Linked DNA regions of Homo sapiens: region 1 is linked to region 2. A link means that fine-mapping ties the variant in region 2 to the expression of a gene that starts in the linked region. Tissue or cell type: Th1 cells. Region 2 holds a variant in brackets; the other region holds the start of a gene. All regions are shown on one strand. Distances are between the middles of the regions.

Evidence for each region. PIP is the estimated chance that this variant, and not a neighbour inherited with it, causes the effect.
Region 1: it holds the start of CTC1, and the variant in region 2 is fine-mapped to the expression of CTC1 in Th1 cells (Schmiedel 2018, PIP 0.95).

The regions. Positions count from the first base shown.
Region 1 is chr17:8,245,038-8,253,185 of GRCh38, reverse strand. CTC1 (CST telomere replication complex component 1) reads left to right here and starts at 5,130. Exons shown (of 23, transcript NM_025099.6): 1 at 5,130-5,182. The coding sequence starts at 5,150. It overlaps PFAS (phosphoribosylformylglycinamidine synthase), which reads right to left and starts at 3,897. Exons shown (of 28, transcript NM_012393.3): 1 at 3,847-3,897. RefSeq lists enhancers at 3,713-4,469, 4,594-4,713, 5,194-5,333 and a silencer at 5,054-5,103.
Region 2 is chr17:8,222,940-8,231,107 of GRCh38, reverse strand. CTC1 (CST telomere replication complex component 1) reads left to right here. Exons shown (of 23, transcript NM_025099.6): 16 at 457-545; 17 at 640-814; 18 at 1,140-1,217; 19 at 1,662-1,806; 20 at 1,902-1,966; 21 at 2,216-2,381; 22 at 2,479-2,605; 23 at 2,789-6,293. The coding sequence ends at 2,928. LINC00324 (long intergenic non-protein coding RNA 324) reads left to right here and starts at 7,065. Exons shown (of 3, transcript NR_026951.1): 1 at 7,065-7,296; 2 at 7,834-8,168. It overlaps TRT-AGT1-2 (tRNA-Thr (anticodon AGT) 1-2), which reads left to right and starts at 4,800; the gene lies at 4,800-4,873. TRS-AGA2-6 (tRNA-Ser (anticodon AGA) 2-6) reads left to right here and starts at 4,417; the gene lies at 4,417-4,498. It also overlaps TRI-AAT4-1. RefSeq lists enhancers at 7,282-7,521, 7,772-7,901, 7,448-8,168. The variant T/G (reference allele first, on the strand shown) is at 3,559.

The DNA.
Region 1 (8,148 bases), 22 kb before region 2:
TGTGGTGAAGGTCAGGGGACTGTGGACACCAATCCTGCACTTCAGGTGTCAGGAAAAATTTCCTGAGAGAAATGGTATCAGCCATGGATTGAATGTTTGTGTATCTCCCCCTCCCAATTCATATATTGAAACCCTAATCCTCAATGTTATGGTATTTGGAGGTGGGGCCTCTGGGACGTAATTAGGTCATGAAAGTGGAACTCTCAAGAATGAGCTACTAATCTCACCAAACCTCTTATAATCTGCCCTTATAAGAAGAGGCCAGATTGGGCGGGGCATAGTGGCTAACACCTGTAATCTTAGCCCTTTGGAGGCTGAGGTGGGAGGATTGAGCACAGGCGTTCGAGACCAACCTGGGCAACATGGCAAAAACCCCATCTCTCTCAAAAAAGATACAAAAATTTGCTGGGTGTGCTGGCATGTGCCTGTAGTCCCAGCAACTAGGGAGGCTGAGGTGGGAAGATCACTTGAGCCTGGGGAGGCGGAGGCTGCAGTGAGCAGTGATCAAGCCGCTGCACTCCAGCCTGGGCAACACAGTGAGAACTTGAGATCAGGAGTTCCAGACCAGCCTGACCAACATGGTGAAACCTCATCTCTACTAAAAAAAATACAAAATTAGCCGGGCGTGGTGATGCGTGCCTGTAATCACAGCTAATTGAGAGGCTGAGGCAGGAGAATCACTCGAACCCGGGAGGCGGAAGTTGCAGTGAGCTGAGATCGAGCCATTGCACTCCAGCCTGGGCAACAAGAGTGAAACTCTGTCTCAAAACAAACAAAAACAAACAAACAAAAAAGGATCTCTGATCACAAAGCTTTTGTTTAAGAATTTATTGCTTGATGATATCATGTCATAAATTATTTATTTATTTATTTATTTTCTTTTTCTTTTTTTTTGAGATGGATTCACTCTGTCACCCAGGCTGGAGTGCAGTGGCACAATCTGGGCTCTCTGCAACTTCTGCCACCTGGGTTCAAGCAATTCTCCTGCCTCAGCCTCCCAAGTAGCTGAGATTACAGGCATGCGCCACCACGCCCAGCTAATTTTTGTATTATTAGTAGAGACGGGGTTTCCCTATGTTCGCCAGGCTGGTCTCCAACTCCTGACCTCAAGTGATCTGCCCGCCTCGGACTCCCAAAGCGTTGGGATTACAGGCGTGCGCCACCATTCCGACCCATAAATTATTAAAACAAAAAAAAAGAATTGCTTAAGCAGGGCTGGGCATGGTGGCTCACATCTGTAATCCTAGCACTTTAGGAGGCCAAGAGGGGCAGATCACTTGAGGTCAGGAGTTCAAGACCAACCTGGCCAACGTGGTGAAACCCTGTCTCTATTAAAAATACAAAAAATTAGCCGGGCGTGGTGGCAAGCACCTGTAGTCCCAGCTACTCGGGAGGCTGAGGCAGGAGAATCACTGGAACCTGGGAAGCAGAGGTTGCAGTGAGCCAAGATTGAGCCATTGCACTCCAGCCTGGGTGACAGAGTAAGACTCTGACTCAAAAAAAAAAAAAAAAAAAAAGAATTGCTTAAGCAGATCCTGAATTCCAGCAGAACAGCTGACTCCACCAGCTCAAAGACTCCCACAGAAGCCAGGAGCAGTGGCTCACGCCTATAATCCCAATGCCTGTAATCCCAGCACTTTGGGAGGCCAAAGCAGTGGACTGCTTGAGCCCAGGAGTTTGAGACCAGCCCTGGGCAACATGGTAAGACCCTGTCTTTATAAAAAAAAAAATTAAAAATTAGTGGGGCATGGTGGCATGTACCTGTGGTCCCAGCTACTCAAGAGGCTGAGGTAAGAGGATCGCTTGAGCCCATGAGTTTGAGGCTGCAGTGAGCTACGATTGTGCCACTGCACTCCAGCCTGGGTGACAGAGCAAGACCCCGTCTTTCTTTTTCTTTTTTTGAGATGGGGTCTCACTCTGTTGCCAGGCTGGAGTACAGTGGCACGATCTCGGCTCACTGCAACCTCTGCCTTGCGGGTTCACGCGATTCTCCTGCCTCGGTCTCCCGAGTAGCTGAGACTACAGGTGCACACCACCATGACCAGCTAATTTTTGTATTTTTAGTAGAGATGGGGTTTCACCATGTTCGCCAGGATGGTCTCAATCTCTTGAACTCGTGATCCACCCACCTCAGCCTCCCAAAGTGCTGGGATTATAGGCGTGAGCGACTGCGCCAGGCAGACCTCATCTTTCAAATTAAAAAAAATAAAAAAAAAAAAAGACTCCCACAGTGGAACCAAGTGAGCATGAGAATCAGTTTCTTCATCTCCCTGTTTCATGACCTCACCCTGCACTCTTCAATCAATGATTTTCACACTTCATCCTAATCCTATTCCAAACTCTTTTTTAAAAACCCTAGCCCCAAAGTACTCTGGGAGATGGATTTGAGGTTTCCTCCTGTCTCCTTGTTCAGCAGCCCTATGATTAAACCTCTTTCTCTGCTGCAACCTGGTGTCTTGGTGTATTGACCTCCAGTGTGCATCAGGCAACAGAACTATTACAGTTAATACTTTTAGCCTAACATTCAAAGGCCCTCCCCATCTATCCCAAACTACCTATCCAATTTCTGGTCCCACTGCCTCTCAGCGGGACCCTGGCTTTACTCACCAAACTCTGCTGTTCCCCTAGTCTTGCCACTCAGTAAACACTACCATCATCCAATTTGTTGCTCAAGACAAAAACACAGAAGTCATCCTTAATTCTCTTTCCCTCAGACTCTCTAAATCCAATCCACCAGGAAATCTATTTCCAATCATGTCTCAAATCTCTCATCTCTTCATCTCTACTACCTCACTCTAGTTCAAGTAAGCCACCACCATCACTCACCTGGACCAATGCATTAACCTCCTGACCACTGCATAACCACAATTCATTTGTCACACATCAGCATAAAGTGGATTATGGCTTCCCATTACACATGGTATAAATTCCAACTCAGCATCCTGGTTTACCAAGTCTGGCCACTCTCTGGCCTACCTTTCCAACCCTATCTCACACCATTCTCTTTTTCACCCACAATGCACCAACCACACATTAGCTTCTTTTTTATTTCTCTAACTTGCCAAGCTCAGTCCTGGAAGGCATTTTTTTCACCCTGACATATGCATGGCTAGCTCTTGTTATTTAGATTTCTGGTGATTCGCCTTCGTGGAAAAGGCTTCACTAGCCACTCAAGTAGTTACTATCAGATGGCCGGCCCTATTTTAATTTCCTGTAAAGCGCTTATCACTATTGGATGTTTTTATTTTTCGCTCTATATTCCCCACTAGAAAAAAAATCTCTACGTGGGCATGGGATGTTGCTGCTTCGTTTCCATTGAATTACCAAGGCTTAGAACAATACCAGGGCTTGAAACGCAAAAAAATTCTAAAACTTGTGGAATGACTTAATGAACTCTTGATTCTCACCACTCTTCAGCCCCTCCCCAACTTTCAGGACAGTCTTCCTGAAGGCATTTTGTTTATTAAGCCACTTGATTTCCGTCTATCATTCCCAGTAAAATATAAGCTTCAAGAGCTCAGAGACAGGGTTTGCGTGCATGAGGGCTGTATTCCATGACCAGCATGGTGCCTGATATAAAGTAGGCGGCCGGCAGTCTTTCTGTTAGCTGAATCCATGAATGGGACAATGGGGCTAAATTTACATGGGGGTCGGCCATGCCTGGGGTCTGCGGAACGCACGCAAGATAGGACGAATGGACGCCTCCACTAAAGCAAATACGCGGGCACCAAGTAGACACAGCTCGGCCCGGTGGGGATACTGAAGCCGCCAGACCAAGCTTGGGCTAGATGACGAAACGCTGCACCTGGAGGAGGATCCAGGTCCGCACGCGGTAACTATACTCACGTGGAAGATGCACTCGCGGCCACAGAGCACCTCGAATCGTCGCGCGCGTTTGTTACGTCATCCGCGTGCGCCGCGGGCAGAGACTGGACCTGCCAGCGCCGGGGCGACTACGCCCCGCCCACTTTTCCCCAGCCACCCGGCCGAATTCTAGGTTCTTGGTGGGGAGAGGTTTATCCCCAGGTGGTTTCTCCCACAAATCTGTCTTGAACTGACGTTTGTGAAAATACATTCAGTTCCCCGTCCCCGCGGGGACAGTTAAGTAATGACATCAGTTAGTTAAGGCCATAAAGCAAGCATGTGAAAGTTGTGCTTTGGTGGCATTACGAGGAAGCCCTTCTCTGCTTGGCAAGATCAGGGAGACTGAAAGATGCTTAGAAGTCATCCACCAGGCGGGCTGTGTTTGAGTTCCTGAGCTCTGCTACCCCATCCATCTGAAGGCCTGCGGGATGCCGGACAGGATGTCACTTAGGAGGGAGACGGAGGCTGGGCGCGGTGGCTCCCGCCTGTAATCCGAGCACTTTGGGAGCCCGAGGCGGGCAGATCGCTTGAGCCCAGGAGTTCGAGACCAGTCTGGGCAACATGGCGAAACCATGTCGCTACAGAAAAATACAAAAATTAGCCGGGTGTGGCGGTGCAAGCCTGCGATCCCAGCTACTTGGTGGGCTGAGGTGGGAGGATCGCTTGAGCCCGGGAGGTCGAGGCTGCAGTGAACCGAGATGGCGCCGCTGCACTCCAGCCTGGGCGATAGAGCGAGACCTCGTCTCAAAAAAATCAGAGAGGGCCAGGGGCTGTGTTTCACGCCTGTAATCCCAGCACTTTGGGAGGCTGAGGCGGGTGGATCACCTGAGGTCAGGAGTTTGAGACCAGCCTGGCCACATGGTGAAACCCCGTCTCTACTAAAAATACAAAAAAAAAAAAAAAAAAAAAAATTAGCCGGGCGTGGTGGTGGCAGGTGCCTGTAATCCTAGCTACTCAGGAGGCTGAGGCCGGAAAATCCCTTGAACCTGGGAGGCGGGGGTTGCAGTGAGCCGAGATCGCGCCACTGCACTCCAGCCTGGGCGACAGAACCAGGCTTCGTCTTAAAAAAAAAAAAATCAGAGAAAAGAGACAGGGGTGTCGGGAGTTGGGATGGTGCACCGAGGCGCCTCGCGGAGTCTCTAGGAAGCGAGGGGGTGAGCAGCGAGAAGGAGCTGGAGGTGGCGAGGAAACCCGCTCACCGGTGACGTCACCGAGCGCCCCCCCACCCCCATCCCCACCCCCAAGCGAGCACCTGCCCCTCCCGGGGGCGGAGCTCCGGCGCATCATGGCGGCTGGCCGGGCCCAGGTCCCTTCCTCCGTGAGTGCTGCTATTACGTCTCTTGTTCCTTTTTTCTTGTTTGTCACAGATACTCTTTCTCTTCCTATTTCCTCTGCCTTGTCTCTCTGGGCTCGCTGGCCGCGTCCGGCCCATGGGTGAGGGGGTTGTGAGTCGGTCCGCTCCTACCTCTTACTGGTTCTGCGAATGTTTATTCCCTCATTCACGCGGCGCCCGCTGTGAGCCTTAAACTGGTCTCCGTTCACTCTCTAGGGTTTAATCCTGGTGGGAAACCAGGAGCAGGTTAATGGGGGAACTATGGGGCTGTGGGTTCCTGGAGAAGACCCTTGACGGAGCTGTAGGGGAAAAGGGCAACCATAATAAGTAAAAGCGTCTGAGACCCGAAGTGCGTGTAGAAGGCAAAAAGCGCCGAAAGGGGCTGGGTGTGGTGGCTCACGCTTGTAATCCAGCACTGTGGGAGGCGGAGGCGGGCGGATTACTTGAGGTCAGGAGTTCGAGACCAGCCTGACCAACATGGTGAAACCTCATCTCTACTAAAAATACAAAAATTAGCCGGGCGTGGTGGCGCGCACCTGTAATTCCAGCTACTCAGAAGGTTGAGGCAGGAGAATCGCTTGAACCGGGTAGACGGAGGCTGCAGTGAGCTGAGATTGTGCCACAGCACTCCAGCCTGGGCAACAGAGCGAGACTCTGTCAAAAAAAAAAAAAAAAAAAAAAAAGCGCCGGAAGGGGTTTCAGGACGGAAGCAAACACATATTCAAAGGCAGGAGGATAGAGCAGGTGTCTGAAAAACTCAAAAGTTCAGTTGGGTGGTGGTGGAGGGGTCAGAGCTGACAGTTTTGTACCTCTTGCTAAGCAGCGACTTTAACATGAGGGTAATTGGGTGTGGTGGCACACGCCGGTAATCCCAGCTGCTCAGGAAGCTGAGCAGGGAACCACGGAAGTGGAGGTTGCAGTGAGCCGAGATCGCGCCACTGCACTCTAGCCTGGACGACAGAGCCAGACTCCATCTCAAATAAATAAATAAATAAATAAATAAATAAATAAATAAATAAATAAGATGTTAAGAAAATACAATCTAAAGGATTGGTTTGTGTGCGTGTGTGTGTGTGTGTGTTTTGAGACGGAGTCTAGCTTTGTCACCAGGCTGGAGTGCAGTGACGCGATCTCGGCTCACTGCAACCTCTGCCTCCCAGGTTCAAGCGATTCTTCTGCCTCAGCCTCCCGAGTAGCTGGAATTACAGGCATACAGGCACGCGCCGCCATGCCCAGCTCATTTTTGTATTTTTTTTCTTTTTTTTAAGTACAGACGGTGTTTCACCATGTTAGCCAGGATGGTCTCGATCTCCTGACGTCGTGATCTGCCCGCCTTGGCCTCCGAAACTGCTGGGATTACAGGCGTGAGCCACTGCACCCAGCCAGGACTGGGACCTATGTAGGGAAAGGAAGGAGCTAAGGAGGACATCTAGGTTTCAGGATAGAACAACTGTTTGGTTAAGGGTACTATTTGCTAAGTTAGTGAACATAACACTAGAAGAGTTCTAGAAAAGGACAGGGTTTTGTGGAAAGTTCAGTGTTGGGCATGTGTGCTGCCTGTGGATTGGCCATGGAGAGTCTGGCAGATGGATAGGACTAAAGCTCAGGAATGAGATCTCAGCTAAAGTAGACATACAGGAACAATCATCATCTGGCCATGGCTGTTAAACCCATGCAGTGGTTGAGATAATTGTGGGAAAGCATATTGTGTTCTTAAACTTCAGCCTGTATTAATCTGGATCTTCCTCTTCCTCCCTCCTTTTTTTTTTTTTTTTTTTTTTTGAAACAAGGTCTTACTCTGTCACCCAGGCTAGAGTGCAGTGGCACCATCATGGCTCACTGCAGCCTCAACCTCCCTGGGCTCAAGCGATCCTCCCACCTCAGCCTCCCAAGTAGCTGGGACTACTGGCGTGTGCTACCACGCCAGGCTAACCCAGCTAATTTTGAATTGTTTTAGAGTTTCACCATGTTGCCCAGGCGGGTCTCAACCTTCCCAGGCTAAGGTGATCCTCCCACCTCAGCCTCCCAAGTAGCTGGGACTACTGGCATGTGCTACCACGCCAGGCTAATCCAGCTAATTTTGAATTGTTTTAGAGTTTCACCATGTTGCCCAGGCGGGTCTCAACCTTCCCAGGCTCAGGTGATCCTCCCACCTCAGCCTCCCGAGTAGCTGGGACTACAGGCACGAGCCACCATGCCCAGCTAATTTTTCTTTTTTGTAGAGACGGGTCTTTGCCTTGTTGCCCAGACTAGTAGTGAACTACTGGGCTCGAGCGATCCACCTTGGCCCCCCAGAGTGCTGGGATTACAGGCGAGAGCCACCACATCCAGTCTGCTCCATTTTTACTCAGTAGATGAAAACACGAATTTGCCTTTTTAACAAAACTTAGGTAATTTTACCTTGAAGCCATGGGATCACTTTGAGAGACAGTCGTATTCAGTGCACCAAGCAAAGGATAGGCCATCCGAGAAACAGGAACTACAAAAGAATACTGGGAGAGGAAGACAAAAAGCGTGAGAGTCGGAACTTTGCTTATACTGGTGGGGCAACTCTGAATGGTGATTTGGTCTGCCTTCCACAACTCTGACCATGAATGAGTGTGTGGCTGAAGTGGGCTGAAAGTCAGTGGTAGGGCTGTCCACAAGGATGCTGAAGACATCTAGAACTTGAAGACTTTTTTTTCCTTTTAACTTTTATTTTAGATTCAGGGGGACGTGCGCAGGTTTATTATGTAGGTAACCTCATGTCATGGGGGTTTGGTATAGAGATTATTTCGTCACCCCTGTACTAAGCATAGTACTTGATGGGTATTTTTTCCAATCTCTCTCTTCCCACCCTCAAGTAGGACCCAGTGTCTGTTATTTCCCTCTTTGTGTTCACGTGTTCTCGTTATTTAGCTCCCACTTATAAGTGGGAACAAACATGCAGTATTTGGTTTTCTGTTCTTGGA
Region 2 (8,168 bases):
GTGCAATGGCCTGATCTCAGCTCACTGAAACCTCTACTTCCCTGGTTCGAAGGATTATCCTGCATCAGCCTCCCAAATAGCTGGGATTATAGGGGTGCACGCCACCACACCCAGCTAGTTTTTTTGTATTTTTAGTAGAGACAGGGTTTCGTCATGTTGGCCAGGCTGGTCTTGAGTTCTTGACCTTAAGTGAGCCTCCCACCTCAGCCTCCCAAAGTGCTGGGATTTAGGGGCGTGAGCCACCTTGTGCGGGTTTTGAATGATCTGCCACAACCCTCTTTTTCCCATAGGCCCTGTTACTCTTAGTGTGCAGTGTGGCAGAGCTCAGGTTTTTTCAGGACTTTATATATGAAGTTCTAGCAGATACTTTAGCTCCATTTTCTGCCTTGAATCTGACTGTCTCCACTCTGTGCTTTCTTGTGCCTCCATTCTCAGTGTATTTCCCTGACCTTCCAGTTTCACAGATTCCTTGGTGTCTTTCTCCGCTGAGATTTTGTCACGGACACTATGTGAACCCCTTGTGGCGTCTCTCTGGATGAAACTGGGTAATGACCCTTCCTTTGTGGGGAAGGTATGAAATAGAGTGATGGGACTTTGTGGACTTCACAGATCCTACTAACACCCACCTTCCTTCTATAGGGAACACGGGGGCCATGAGAAGGTGTGTGAAGCTAACAGTCGCTCTTGAGACTGCTGAATGTGAATTCCCCCCTCACCTGGATGTATATATAGAAGACCCACACTTGCCTCCCTCACTAGGACTACTTCCAGGAGCCCGGGTCCACTTCAGCCAGTTGGAGAAAAGGGTTTCCAGGTGAAGATGTGTAGTGTCACCTGCCTCCTCTTGCTACTGATGTGGCTCTCTGGAATGTGCACCCCTGCTTAACTTTGCTGCAGCGACCCCTTCTCTTTCATACAGGTTTCCATATATCAGTCTGCCATTTGTGCCCAGCCAGTACCCTCACGAGGTGTTGCAGGCTGGTCCTCCTCCTAGTCTTCCCCTAGCTTTGGTAGAGCCATGGCTAGGATATGTCCCTCAGGGGGAGTGGCCACTCTGTGGTGCTTGATCTCTGAGTCCCAGCTTCTACCCCAATTTGCCTTGTCTTCCTGGTCACTCACTATTCCTCTTCCACTTGCAGATCTCACAATGTTTATTGTTGTTTCCGGTCATCCACTTATGTGCAGGTCCTGAGTTTTCCCCCTGAGACCACCATCAGGTCAGTGCCCAGACCCCAACCCCTAAACTTCCTGGCTTCACATCTGCATCTCCCACATGTCCCTGGTTCTGAAGATTTTGCCATCATTACAGTCTTCTCCAATCCCAACAAGATGTGTTGAGTCAGAGGAGCTTCTCTACTCCAAATAAAAAATGCTCTGTGTCTATCATTGTACCCAGAATCATTTAGTGTTCTAGGCTTTTGAAGGCTTTTCAGTCTTAACATGCAAATATTTCTTGGCTAACATCATGGTGTTCAAACCTGAAAAATAACCAATGACTATCAGAGATCAGGAATTAAAATGGGGCTTCTAGGAGCGCATGGAACCCACTGCTGTCCCCATCCTGATGCCCTCTAAGTCCTTCTAGACCCACCCTGCTTTCAGAACCCCTTTGCCTGTTCTGTTATCTTGACCCCTGTCTCTGTCTCCCTGTATTTATTTAGCATTCCCCTGCCCCACATCTACCTGGCTGAACTTCTGCAGGGTGGTCAGTCCCCATTCCAGGCCACTGCCTCTTGCCATATCGTCTCTGTCTTCAGCCTTCAGCTCTTCTGGGTGTGTGCTTATTGTACCAGCATCTGCCGGCAGGTAAGGGAGGGAAGGAACAGGCTGAACTGAGTATGGAGTGCCAGAGGGATGTGATGGGACCAAGAGGACTTTTCCAACCACTGTCTTCATCCCAGGGAAAGTGCACTCGCCTGGGCTCCACTTGCCCTACGCAGACAGCTATAAGCCAGGCCATCATCAGGTGAGAGCACAAGGCGTGCACCCATTGTGCCATTTACTTATGAGACCACTTTGTCTATCTGCAGTTTCTACATTAGCATAATTCCTGGCTCATGAGAATTGCTTAATATTTTTTGAACGAATGAATGAGGGTAAGCTCCTAAATCTGTGAGCCAAAGACTGCAGACAGCGGGGAGGGAGGCATGTTGGGTCCAGGGTGTTGGCAACCTGGGTTGCTATAGGCGTTTTTATTTCCTCCTGCTCCCCATAGGCTCCTGGTGGAGGATGGGACTGCCGAAGCCGTGGTGACCTGTAGGAATCACCATGTGGCAGCAGCACTAGGGCTGTGTCCTAGAGAGTGGGCCTCCCTCCTAGATTTCGTCCAAGTGCCAGGCAGAGTGGTCTTGCAGTTTGCAGGGCCTGGAGCCCAACTTGAGGTGTAATGTGGCTGGGAGGGAGGGACTCGGATACCCAAATTCCTGGGCTTTTGGCAAAGGGTTTAGGAGCCAGTTAACCTTGACCTTCTCTTTCTAGTCTTCAGCCAGGGTTGACGAGCCCATGACCATGTTCCTCTGGACACTTTGTACTAGCCCCTCTGTCCTCCGTCCTATTGTGCTTTCTTTTGAGCTGGAAAGGAAACCGTCGAAGATCGTCCCATTAGGTAAGGTTGGAGACGGGGGGATCATGATGATAGGGGGATCATGGTGATAGAGATAGATGGGTCCCTGGGAGGAAGAGGGATGAGGGACTGATGGGGAATTTCTGGAGTTAGGGAGGAGAATGGTGGGTGGGAACTAAAAGCCACATGCCTGAGACGTGTGTTTTTCCTCTCTTCCCACCTCAGAACCTCCTCGGCTACAGCGATTCCAGTGTGGAGAGCTCCCTTTCCTGACTCACGTGAACCCCAGGCTCCGATTGTCCTGCCTTTCTATCCGAGAGTCAGAGTACTCCAGCTCTCTGGGGATCCTTGCTTCCTCCTGTTAACTGAACTGCAAGGATGGCCTGAGAGTCCTTCCTTGCTGAAAACCTGAAGGCCTAGGTCCTGGCTCCTCTCCCTACTTGTTCTGTGATTGAACCAAGGACTCCAGATTCACAAACTGCTACTCCACTATAATTTCCCTTCTTTGGTGTTCTGGTGCCAGCCTGCCTTGGCAAAATTGTGGCAACAGGAAATCATGGCCCTATTAATATGTCCTCTGATTGGGACAAGGCACCTGCATTCACAGGCGGCCCTGAGCACCTGGGTTCTGACTTTGTCGCAGGAGCTGAGGGAACAAAAGACTTGCTCGCTGTGGGGTGATGGTGACAGGCCTATTGACCTGCAATGAAGCCCTCTGGTGTCATTTCTCACTGGTACTCATCTCTGGGGTCCCAGGCCTCCTGACTCCTAGTTGTCCACCTCCTAGGAACTCCTAGTCGTTCATCATCATTTCAGCCCTTTGCCGCCAGGGCCAAAGGTGGAAAGTGATTTGGAAGAGAAGAGCTTTTCGTCCAGCAGAAGAAATGGTACCAAAATCAGTCTGTAAAGGAAGTAAATTGGGGAGTTGGCGGCAAGGCAGAGAGCATAGCTATGATGGTCTCAGTCAGTAAGGCTGGGCCCTGCAGGAAGTCAAA[T/G]ATGAATGCCTAGAGGTGTTCACAAGCACAAAGAAGGTGTAGGGGGAGGCAAGTGCCAGGCACAAGCAGGGGCAGGTGAGGACTCTGGGTGACTGTGCTATAGGGCCCCAGGCTACGGTTAGCCCTGTAGGTTTCCCAAGGGCCTGGCCTAAGGCAGATCCTTGATCGATATACCTTGAGACCAGAAGGTGCTCCGAAATCACAACCGTACAATTAGGGGATCTAGGAACAATTCTTTGGAGATACCAATGCCTTTGGCTGGTGTTGCTGCATTTCTTTACTGGGGACTGATAGATGGAGAGGTGGAAAGATGAGCTGAGGCACATCTTTCAGAGCTACTGGGAGGCCATTTCTTCCTGGCTGTTAGGATTTGTTCGTGTTTGGGAGACCTTTAGAGCGTGGTTAAACCCATATGTTGGGATTTATGCTGCTTTTATGGTAGCAATACCCTATATTAAGATTTGAAGTAGACCCGGAAAGTTAGTGGCCGGTTAGCTCAGTTGGTTAGAGCGTGGTGCTAATAACGCCAAGGTCGCGGGTTCGAACCCCGTACGGGCCAGTGGGTGGCTTTTTTTTGTGTGTGTTTTGTTTTCTGACCCTCTGCTGTTATCCGGAAGTTTCTACCCGGAGCCAGTTGCCTTCTGGTAACAGAATTATATTGCACCTACTGCTTCCTATTCCCTGAATCACTAGCGCTCCCGAAGGCTTGGAGGGAGGAGTCTCTGGGCACCCGGGTGAAAGGAAGGTTCACGTGCAACCGCCGCGTCTTTTTTTCCCTGAAGCGCTTTCATGGAGGCAGATGTTTGTCAGTCAAGGGAAGTAAGAAAGGCATTGGATGAAAACGAAGCCCTAAGCCTCGTAGTCGTGGCCGAGTGGTTAAGGCGATGGACTAGAAATCCATTGGGGTCTCCCCGCGCAGGTTCGAATCCTGCCGACTACGTCATATTTTTTTCTTCAGCATACTGACCATATTTCTCTCCAGGATGGGATGATCCAGTCGGCACCCTCCAAACCTCTCATCTAGGAACTCTAGAATCGAGAATTTGATTTAGAGTCTATGATTTTGGTTTGAAATCTATGATTAACGTCTTTGGACATTGAAGGAAATCCGAGGAATGGACAAGTGATGCAAGAGCCAGTTGAGTTACCAAATTAGTTCTAGAAAGATCTGAAAAAGCTCGGTCCGGGTTCCTAGCTCTATATTCTTGTAGATGAATTTCAGGAACCTTTATGGCAGCTTCGGCGCCGTGGCTTAGTTGGTTAAAGCGCCTGTCTAGTAAACAGGAGATCCTGGGTTCGAATCCCAGCGGTGCCTTTATTCAATTGAAACAGCGTGATTTTGCGGCTAAATCCACATCCTTTCATGTATTGTTTTTATATCAGAACGCGTAAGAGTTTCTGTTCTGCACTCATAGCACCCACATTTCCTGCAGAGTCAAGCTGCCACTCCCATGAGATCGCCACTCTAAAAGGTGGTTCTCTAACTTAGGGGCAGAAATGTTGCATAGGCCTAAGGGTCCTTTGCTTAACTGATGCCACACCCCACTGGTGCAGGTGGACTGGGTCAGGCGGCCGCCCCACCCTCGATGGAAGGGGCTGCCCACCTTCCAGGCCTCTTTCTCCACCCTAGGACGTCCCCTAGAACCTGAGCCACTTTGTTTTGTTTGGCTCTTCATTATAGTTCTTTGGGTTTGGTGGCTCATAATGTTATATATATAGTATATAATATAAAAATATATATTTAAATATACAGTATTTAAAATTTGGCACAGCTTCCAGATGCGGTCCTCTAACTGGTCTTTCACTTGCAGTTACCTCCATCCCTCTCCACCAGCGGGATGTCAGGGTAAGGAGTAAGCAGGGATCCGGCTGGCCTGGCCTGGCCTGGCACCAGGTTTCGTGCAGCAGGGTGCAGAAGGGCTGAGGCCATGTGAACAGAGTCCAAGAAAGCATCATTCGGGAGTCGCTAGGGATCCTGGTGTGGAAGGGCAGGGCACTTTTCTGGAGCACTGAAGCTAGGCTGGTTAAGGAAGAAATAAATGCCAGAGATAAGGCAAGAAATAGGATCTGTGAGCTCTTGGCAGGACCTAAACCTCCTTGGAAGATAGGCAGAAAGCTCTCGACACCATTCCATGGCCCACGAACCAATGTAAGATGAGCAAATGGCTTGAAGGAATTGCTACCTCCAGGTCAAGCCAGGGATGCAGCACTGCCGAGACCACGTTTGTGCCAAGCACTGGGCTGGACCCTGTGCAGAACCAAATGAACAAGGCACGTTCCCCTTTCAGCACTAACGGCACTGTAAGAACAGGGAGAAGTGGAATCTAATCTGGCCTGAGGGTAGAGGGTGATCAGCTAAGTCTGAAACACCATGTAGAAACTTGCCATGTATGGCCGGGCGCGGTGGCTCACGCCTGTAATCCCAGCGCTTTGGGAGGCCAAGGTGGGCGGATCACGAGGTCAGGAGTTCCAGACCAGCAGCCTGGCCAACATAGTGAAACCTGGTAACATAGTGAAACCTCGTCTCTACTAAAAATGCAAAAAATTAGCCAGGCGTGGTGGCAGGCGCCTGCAGTCCTAGCTACTTGGGAGGCTGAGGCAAGAGAATCGCTTCAACCTTGGAGGGGGGAGGAGGTGTTGTCAGCCGAGATCGCGCCACTGCATCCCAGCCTGGGCAACAAGAGTGAAACTCCGTCTCAAAAAAATGAAATAAAATAAACGAATGATCAGCTGTTTGTTAGTTCTTGGTTATTAAAAGTGGGGTCTATGTACGCACTTTTCTGAGGAAAAAATAAAGTGTGGGGTATGTGGATGGGATTATGTGTGAACTCCCTGGATTGTATACATGTTTAGGAAGAGGGCCATAGCTTTTTTTTTTTTTTTTTTTTTTTGAGACGGAGGGAGTCTCATTCTGTCACCCAGGCTGGAGTGCAATGGCACAATATTGACTCACTGCAACCTCCGCTTCCCGGGTTCAAGCAATTCTCCTGCCTCAGTCTCCCGAGTAGCTGGGATTACAGGCGCCCGCCACCACGCCTGGCTAATTTTTGTATATTTAGTAGAGACGGGGTTTCACCATTTTGGTCAGGCTGGTCTTGAACTCCTGACCTTGTGATCCACCCACCTCAGCCTCCCAAAGTGCTGGGATTACAGGTGTGAGCCACTGTGCCCGGTGAAGAGGGACATAGCTTTCATAAGGGTCATAAAGGATTTAGGCCTCCCCTTCTGCAGCGTTTAAGTGCCTGAGGCCAGGGAAGAGGTGACTGGATTATTTTGCAGAGAAAGCTGGGGCCCAAGGGGAGGGAGACAGGAATTGGAAAAGGGTAGGAATGGGGGAGGAGATGCCAGATCAGCCCTGAGAACCTCTTTACCCATCTCAAAGACTTGGGACACTAATGGGAAAGGCTGGGCTAACTTCTGCTGCCCTTCCCCACTGTCTGTCCAGGGGAACCTGGGAAAGACAAATAGGAGCTGAATCCTTCACTGAAAGCCCCGTCATCGTATCTATGGGTTGGGCATTAGGAACGGCCTGGCCCCACAAATCACACAACTGGGGTGTAGAACAAAATGGTTCCACAGATGACACCAGGCTGGTCCAGGGCCGATGCAGGCCAGAACCCCGCTGGGAGGACTCCCCAGAACAGGCACTGAGCTGAGGAAAGGCAGGACACGTGGTCTGCTACCGACCCCACCAGATCTTGCTGGGACTCTGGGCAGCTCCGGAGTAAGAGCAGCATGGTGAGTGTTTAAGAGCGCAGAGGCTCACTGGGCAGTCCCGGGGACACTGCTAAGTCCCCAAACCGGGTCTACAGGCCTTCGACCACATTCATGCGGCCACGTGCCTCAGAGCCTTCGGGGGGTCTTAGGAGGCAGGCAGGAGGGTCTCCCTTCTAGGCCATTCTAGGAGGGGACTGGGGAGCAGAGGTTAGACTGTAGGGTAGGGGTAACCTGATCTTACAGTCCGGAAGCCATGAGACTAGTCGCCTGGCCTTGCGCCCCGCCCCACTGCAGGGTGGAAAGCCTGTCCCCCTCCAGTCACCCAGCTCAATAACGCCCTCTTCCGTGGGTCTTCTGGGCCCCAGAAATCGTTCCCTCTTTCCCTCGCTTGGGTACTGCCATGCGGTCTGGGGAACCCGTGGACTATCGATGGGTCTGGCCCAGGGTTTGCCCTGCCCGTTAGCCCAGGAGGATAGACAGACACGGGGCACTGGTGTTCCCCTAGTGATTTCTCCTGCCCGTCCCGAAAGCAAGCAATTCCACCGCTTCTCTTCAAAGCTCTGCAACGAAGAGCTAGGTCCAAGGACCGCAGGCGGAGGCAGGAAGTGTCAAGATCCCAGGTTACGGAATGGCACCAAGTCGGTAACCAAAGGAAGCAACAACCCGGGTGTTCAAGGCAGTCGTGCAAGGCGGCGCGGGGGCGAGGCCGAGGCCACTCCCTCCCACTTCCTTGACGCTATTTCCTGGGAGGAGCCGGAGCTCGCGGCCCGGAGCCAAGAGATTCCCAGCCCAGTGCTCCAAAATACTCGGCCTGGGGGAGGCTGGTCCGTGAGCGTGCGCCCGGACCGTTCCGCCATGCATAGTGGACCCAGCACTACAGCAAGCCTGGCACG